Linked DNA regions of Homo sapiens: region 1 is linked to region 2. The links come from fine-mapping of genetic effects on gene expression. A gene starts in region 2. The other region holds a variant in brackets. All regions are shown on one strand. Distances are from middle to middle.

Region 1 (4,000 bases), 57 kb after region 2:
CAAATACGTATTTCATTCTCACATGGTATTTCTCTCTTCCTAGTAAGGGAGGAGACCACCCTTCATATTGTTTTATGCCCAATTTCTGCCTCCAAAGAAAGAAGAAGTAAAAACTAAAAGGCAGAAATGAAATCCACAGGCAAACAGCCTGAGACCACATCCTGGGCCTGGTTAAAGATAGACCCCTGACCTGGCCAGTTATGTTATCTATAGATTCCAGACACTGTATGGAAAAGCAGTGTGAAAATCCCTGTCCTGTTCTGTTCCATTCTGATGACCAGTGCATGCAGCCCCCAGTCATGTACCCCCTTAGAGTTGTAAGCCCTTAAAAGGGACAGGAATTGCTCACTCTGAGAGCTTGGTTGTTGGAGATGTGAGTCTTGCCCAAGCTCCCAGCCGAATAAAGCCCTTCCTTCTTTAACTCGGTGTCTGAGGGGTTTTGTATGCAGCTTGTCCTGCTACACTAGAATCGTTCCTTAATTCTCTCCTCTAATATTGCTGCTACCTCTATTAAAACACAAAGCCACAATATATGGATACATTTGGAAAATATGCACACTTTGGATCCAGCAAGTCCACATCTAGAAAACCATCCTGGGGGAAAATTAAGGAGAGTATGAAAAGGATGTTTACTAAAGCATTATGATGGCAAAAAATTAGAAACAACTTACACTGAACTAGTCAACTTACTTAACAGACAGAAGGCTCAATTAGCTCATGTGTCAAATGGGGGTAAAATAATATTTAGTTTGGAGGGAAAGACAGGCTCTAAAAGAGGATTAAAAATTAGATGTGGCCTAGGCAAAGAATTTATGACCAAGTCCTCAAAACTAAACACAACAAAAACAAAAACAGACAAATGGGACTTAATTAAACTAAAATGCTTCTGCACCGCAAAAGACCGAATCAACAGAGTAAACGGATAACCTACAGAATGAGAAAAAAAAATTGCAAACTATGAATGCAACAAAAGGCTAATATACAGAATCTACAAGGAACTCAACAACAAAAAAACCAACCTCATTAGAAAGTGACTGTGATGGTTAATACTGAGTGTCAACTTGATTGGACTGAAGGATGCAAAGTAATGATCTTGGGTGTGTCTGTGAGGGTGTTACCAAAGGAGATTAATATTTCAGTCAGTGGGCTGGGGAAGGCAGACCCACCCTTAATCTGGGTGGGCACCATCTAATCAGTTGCCAGCACAGCCAGGATATAAAGCAGGCAGAAAAATGTGAAAAGGCTAGATTGGCTTGGCATCCCAGCCTACATTTTTCTCCCATGCTGGATTCTTCCTGCCCTGGAACATTGAACTCCAGGTTCTTCAGCTTTGGGACTCCGACTAGCTTCCTTGTTCCTCAGCTGGCAGATGGCCTGTTTTGGGACCTTGTGAACATGTGAGTCAATACTACATAATAAACTCTCATATAGATATAGATATAGAGATAGATATAGAGATAGATATAGATATAGATATAGATATAGATATAGATATAGATATATATCTCCTATTAATTCTGTTTCTCTGTAGAACCCTAATACAGATTTTGGTACCAGGAGTGGTTCTAGAGGAACAGAATATTAAGGATGGAGTTCTTTCATTGGTTTTGGGGTTTCTGGAGTTGGCTGCTTAATATGATTAGACCCAAATATGCTAAGGACTCTTCTTCTAATGGTATGGAGAACACTGATAATCCTTGGCATCAATTGTTTAGAGAGTTATGCAAAATAAATGCATTTGACACTCTTGATTCAACGCTTGTGAGAGGCAAGGAATTTAGCTACTGTATACATAATACTTTTGACTATATGTGGAGAATCAAGGAACATAGTGAAGTTGGTTGGTTGCTTGTAAGTTCGCTGGACAAAGTGATGAAAGAAAATGATGAACTCAGGAGTATATCAACTCTCCAGCTTTGTGCCATAATCTTATTTGGAGAGAACTTGCTCACCTTTCACTTCCACAAGATATCACAGTGGTCCATTACATTGATGACATGCTGACTGGAACTAGTGAGCAAGAAGTAGCAAACACACTGGATTTAT[T/C]GATGAGACATTTGTGGGACAGAGGATGGGAAATAAATCTGATTAAATTCAGGGACCTTCTACCTCAGTAAAATTTATAGGGGTCCAATGGTTTGGGGCTCTTTGAGATATTCCTTCTAAAGTGAAGGATAATTTGCTGCATTTGGCCACTCTTACAACCAAGAAATAGGCACAACGCCTAGTGGGCCTATTTGGATTTTGGAGGCAACATATTCCTGATTTGGGTGTGTTACTCTGGCCCATTTATCGAGTGATCCAAAAGGCTGCCAGTTTTGAGTGGAGTCCAGAACAGAAGGCTCTGCCACAGGTCCAGGCTGCTGTGCAAGCTGCTATGCCACTTGGGCCATATGACCTAGCAGATCCAATGATGCTTGAGGTGTCAGTGCCAGATAGGGATGCTGTTTGGAGCATTTGGCAGGCTGAATCACAGCGGAGGCCTCTAGGATTTTGGAGCAAGGCCCTGCCATCTTCTGCAGATAACTACTCTCTTTTAGGGAGAAAGCTCTTGGCCTGTTACTGGGCTTTGGTGGAAACGAAATATTTGACTATGAGTCATCAAGTCACCATGTGACCTGAACTGCCTATCATGAACTGGGTGCTTTCTGATCCATCTAGCCATAAAGTGGGCTGTGCACAGCAGCATTGCATCAGCAAATGGAAGTGGTATATATGCGATTGGGCTTGAGCAGATCCTGAAGGCACTAGTAAGTTACATGAGAAAGGGGCTCAAATGCCCATGGTCTCCACTCCTGACACACTGCTTTCTCTCCCTGAGACTGCACCGATGGTCTCATGGGGAGTTCCCTATGATCAGCTGACAGAGGAAGAGAAGACTAGGTCCTGGTTCACAGATAGTTCTGCACGATATGCAGGCACCACCCAAAAGTGGACAGCCGCAGCACTACAGCCCCTTTCTAGGACATCCCTGAAGGACAACGGTGAAGGGAAATCTTCCTAGTTGGCAGAACTTTGAGCAGTGTGCCTGGTTGTGCACTTTGCACAGAAGGAGAAATGGCCAGATTTGCGATTATATACTTATTCATGGGCTGTAGCCAAAGGTTTGGCTAGATGGTCAGGGACTTGGAAAAAGCATGACTGGAAAATTGATGACAAAGAAATTTGGGGAAGAGGTATGTGGATGGACCTCTATGATTAGTCAAAAACTACAAAGATATTTTCATCCCATGTGAGTGCTCACCAATGGGTGACCTCAGCAGAAGAGGATTTTAATAATCAAGTGGATAGGATGATCAATTCTGTGGACACCACTCAGCCTTTTCCCAGGCCACTCATGTCATCGTCCAATGGACCCATGAACAAAGTGGCCACAGTTGCAGGGATGGAAGTTATGCTTGGGCTCAGCAACATGGACTTCCACTCACCAAAGCTGACCTGGCCACAGCCACTGCTTGCCAGCATCAGAGACCAACACTAAGCCCTTGATATGGCACCATTCCTCGGGGTGATCAGCCAGCTACCTGGTGGCAGGTTGATTATATTGGACCTCTTCCATCATGGAAAGGGCAGAGGCTTGTCCTCACTGGAATAGACACTTACTCTGGATATGGGTTTCCCAATCCTGAACTCAATGCTTATGCCAAGACTACCATCCATGGAATCACAGAATGCCGTATCCACTGTCATGGTATTCCACACAGCATTGCTTCTGACCAAGCCACTCACTTTATGGCTAAAGAAGTGTGACAGTGGGCTCATGCTCATGGAATTTACTGGTCTTACCATGATCCCTATCATCCTGAAGCAGCTTTTGAATGGCCTTTTGAAGTCACGATTACAATGCCAACTAGGTGACAATACTTTGCAGGCCTGGGGCAAAGTTCTCCAGAAGGCTGTGTATGCTCTGAATCAGTGTCCAATATATGGTACTGTTTCTCCCATAGACAGGATTCACGGGTCCAGGAATCAAAGGGTGGAAGTGGAAGTGGAAGTGGCA
Region 2 (4,536 bases):
TCTACATCATGAATTTCTCCTTCCCTACTGATCATCCCCATCAATATACATGTCTTACAAATTGTTTCTTAGTTGTCACATCAACAGAAACCAATAAACATGGCTGATTTGGGCAAAACAAAGATTTTATTAAAAGGACACTGCAGCTGGCATCACCACTGCTACAGCACTGGATGCTGGAACTTGCCACTAGCACCGTAGCTAAGACTACTCCAGAAACTCAATCTTACTACAACCCCTGCTTCACCCGAGCACTTCTTCCATCCTGGCATGAGATTCCCCATCTAAGCATGCTCATCTGATTGGTGAAGCCCGTGTCATATGCCCACATTCTCCCTGATAGGGAGGCTAGAAAACTGACTATCTGGCATTTTCAGTTTGTACAATAGAAGAAACACTCTGCCTCCCAAAAAGATTCATAATTTCATAATTCATAATTCAGGGAATTTTAGGAATTTCCTAGAAATGAAAGGTTTCCCAAAAAGTATAACAAATCTTCTATCTTATCTTTTAAAAAAAAAAAAAAGATTTCACAGGCCAAGCATGCCTATAATCCCAGAGGTTTGGGAGGCTGACATGGGAGGACCAGTTGAGGACAGGAGTTTCAGCCCAGCCTGAACAACATAGTGAGACCCTGTCTTTAAAATAACAATAACAATAATAATAACAGTAAAAAAAATTCTCATTTTTTCCTTTCCCTTCTTTTGTGACATCTGTAAAAGAGATTGTTTATTCTTGGCTTTAATTTATCATATCATATTCACTATTCAACCAACTCCAATCTTGCTTCTATCCTCAAAACCATCATATTCCAAATCCAGTGGATGTTTCTTGGAGCTAATGTTGCTTGACCTCCCAATACTACTGGATCTTCACTTGGCTTCCATGATATCAGGGTCCCCTGGAATTTCTCCTTTCTTTCTGACTCTACCTCAACCTCCTTTTCTGGCTCTTCCTCTGCTCATTCTCTATGCGTTTGTTTTCATAGCTCTGTCCCTGCCACTCTTCTTTAGCCCTATTCACTCCCTAAGTGTTGTGTTTAATCTCATCCCTTTACTGGTTGTAAAATTCTTAGAATTCTTAAAATTCTTAAAGCTAATCATTTCTGCCCCCCACCAAAAAGAAAATCTGTAGGCTGGTGACCTCTTGGCTGACCTCTATCAAGTTTTGCATTTCTAACCTTCTATTTTGTACTTGTACTTGGATATTTTTAATATACATTTTAATTTTAATATGCCTATATGGCAAGTGTTAATTTCCCTCTCATAACTTGCTTCTTAAGAAGTTTCTCTAATTTCAGTAAATTACTTCATAATTTACCCACAGTTTTATCCATAAACCTAAGAATCATCCTTGATTTATTTTTCTCACACTTTCATATCCCTTTTATATACAAGTTCTATATTTTCTACCTCCACAACATGTATTCCAAATTCATTTACAGCTCTTCTTTCCCTGTGTGTACCATCCCAGTGTAAGCCATCATCATCTATTGCTTATAATCGTATTTCCACATCAACTGGCCCATTTCTTCTTCTCCAATCTCATTTCAAAGCACCTCCCCCGTTCACCCACACAACGCTGCCTCCATTGGCCTCTTTCCTAGTCCCCAAGCAAGTCATGCTCTTTGCTGTCCACAGATTTTGCTTTTCTTTCTTCTATTGAGAATGCCTGGAATACTAATTCCTGCCCAGCTTCTCCCATTACTTCACCTTATCCTTCAAGACTACCCTCTGTTTTTAACCTTCCCTAAAGTAGCCCACCACTTATCCTATCACATCACCTTGCTTACTTTTACTTAACAATTTAAAACATTCTGTAGTTACAGTAGTCCCTGCTTATCCACGGTTTCACTTTCCATGGTTTCAGTTACCCATGGTCAACTACAGTCTGAAAATATTAAATGGGAAATTCCAGAATTAATAAGTTTAAATTGTGAGCTTTAAATCTGAGTAGGGTGTTGAAATCTCTCACTGTCCAGCTCCAGCCCACCCAAGACATGAACCATCTTTTTGTCCAGCATGTCCATATGTAAACACCACTCTCCCATTAATCAGTTAGTAACCATCTTGGTGAACAGATAAAAAAAAATAGTATAATAAGGCATATACGTATCAGTGGTTTCAGGCATCCACTGTGGGTCTTGAAACATGCTCCTCCACCCCACACACACCTACGATTAAGGGGTAACTACTGTGTCTTATTTATCTATTCATCAGTTTACTGTGTACCTTAACTAGTAGGTAACTTAGATCAAAGCAGAGACCATGTCTTTTCAGTGCATGGCTGTGTCCCTTGAAATACAAGGATTGTGTGTCTCATAGGCACTCAATAAATATTTGCTAAACAACAGAATGAATTGATAATTAAGTGAATGACTGATGTCAAATTCCATTGAGATTCCCAAACCTTTTCATACATCTTTAGCCATCAGTGATAGACTGATGGCTAGTTACCCAAGAAAAGTTTTCTGATTTATTCTTTTACTTTTGATTCTGCCTTGGACTATTGATTGTTTTCATTAATAATAATAATAACATGTTACTTTGGGCAGCTAGTAGGAAAAGCAAGGCCAATGATGCTGACACATTCTGAAGGCCTCCTGGGTGATGCAATCAGTATTTAAACAAATAATTTCTGCCCATCAATCATTCCTCTACTTCCTGCAATGAAGCTCCCTGGAGGAGTCATCAGATTCTCAATCTTGCTTGAAGACTGACAAGATGTCCCTGTGGACTCCCAAACTCTACTCCAGATGGGGAGGTGCCCTTAACACCAAGATTTTAAAAGCTCCAATTTCAGAGCAAGAGTCGAAAACTCACAGATAAAGTTATAGTTATTTCAGGGTTCTGAAAAGACGCAGAACATGAAGGTAAGTAAAGGCTTTATTAACTTGAGACTTCTTAGCTATTTTTTAAAACGTTTTATAGCATTTTACCTATTTCATGTTTAATAAGGATTTTAGAGTTTAAAGGATATTTGAACGATACGCCTTTAGAATAACAGAATCATTTGATTTTACTAAGAAAAAAATTCACGTATTTACTTATTCTTCATTTGGGTGAAGTAATACAAATAATATGTTTCTAAATACGTTTTTTCAAGTGGACTCTTTGTGAATTAACTAGAAGGTAGAAGGGAAACACCTCCAGAAAACTGAGTATTAAAACAGAATATTGCGAGAAGTAAGGGGGTTTATAATTGTCCAGGCGTCAAGGAAGGAAGCAGAAGATCCTATTGGCACAGAAATGACCCTTTCTGGTTGATCGCTTCATATAGGGACTCAGAAGTCTGGCAGCAACAACCTTGGCTCTTTTCCTGGTGTTTGTTTTCCTGGGAAACTCCAGCTGCGCTCCGCAGGTAATCAAATGCAAAATAAAAAATTTTAAAACAATGCGCACTGTGTGTCCACTCTGCTCTTTCTTTCTTCCTTCTTGTTTTATTCTCTTCTTTTTCCTTTATTTTGCTGTAATAGAGGACTGAGCTGCAATGTTTTATTAACTGCTCTTCCCTTCCCCCGGGCTATAGAGACTGTTGGAGAGAAGGAACTGGACTCCTCAAGCTATGCTCTACCTGAAAGGGGCACGTAAGTTCCAAATATTTCGCTCTTCCTACAATAATGGAAGACCCCTAGGAGTCAGGAACAGATAGATGGAGAGTTATGGAGAGAGAATAATGTCGAGTTTATTCCCTTAAATCATCGAGGCCATCAAAGAGACCGGTAGGTGAGGGAGGGGTGGGAGAGGGGAAGAGTCCCTGATTATTGGAAATCCTCCATCCTTATTAGAAATTCTCCATCCAAAACTGGAGGGTTGCTTCTCTTGGTCCAAATGGGGACTCGGGTTGCCTGGGAAATATCTCAGTAACCCGACCTCCGCTCCAAAGCGCCCTTGCGGCGTCCGGTCAGGCGCGGGGCTTTCCTCCAGAGCTCCAGGGCCCCTGGCTCAGCCCGGGGTTGCGCTGGGAGCGCTGGAAACTCGGCAGCCCCGCGCGACCCTATCCTGGAGCAACCTGCCCCCTCCCCACGCCCGGGGACTGCGCTGTGCCGGGAGGAGCTGAGGTTTAAGCCCGGGTTGTCCCGGGCCAGGCTGTCGCTGAGCCCCAGGTCTCGTTTTTGCAGAGGGTCGCCGCTTCATCTCCGACCAGAGCCGGAGAAAGGACCTCTCCGACCGGCCACTGCCGGGTGAGTGACCAAGGGTGCAAGGGCGCTAGTCCTGCGCTTTTGGAATAGGATGGGGCGGGCAGGGCTTGCTCCGCGCTGGTGCCGAAAGAAAGCGTCTCCTCACCGGAAAGACGCGGCTCTGAGGCGCCCTCAGATACAGTCCGCCCGAGGGCAGCCCGGGTTGGCAGCAGCAGCAGCTGGATGCCGAGCGCCGGAGCTGGGAGCTCGCGCGTCCAGCCCCGCGCCAATGGTGGCAAGGGCGGCCCAGGCTGGCGCTGCGGCTCCCCAAGCCTTATTGGCTTGCGGCTGTTCAGCCAGCCCTCTGGCTGCCAGGGTGTGCAGAGGTCCCCAGGGAGTTAGGACCTGAGGTGCAG

The links. PIP is the estimated chance that this variant, and not a neighbour inherited with it, causes the effect.
Region 1: its variant is the best candidate, but not a certain one, in a credible set for the expression of SPX in whole blood (TOPMed, PIP 0.55).

Annotation. Positions count from the first base shown.
Region 1 is chr12:21,581,138-21,585,137 of GRCh38, forward strand. The region is part of intron 1 of GYS2 (glycogen synthase 2); the gene reads right to left. Among named protein-coding and RNA genes, the nearest start is that of GYS2, 22 kb to the right of the region's middle. The variant T/C (reference allele first, on the strand shown) is at 2,047.
Region 2 is chr12:21,523,607-21,528,142 of GRCh38, forward strand. It overlaps SPX (spexin hormone), which reads left to right and starts at 2,690. Exons shown (of 6, transcript NM_030572.4): 1 at 2,690-2,872; 2 at 3,280-3,360; 3 at 3,529-3,586; 4 at 4,121-4,183. The coding sequence starts at 2,867.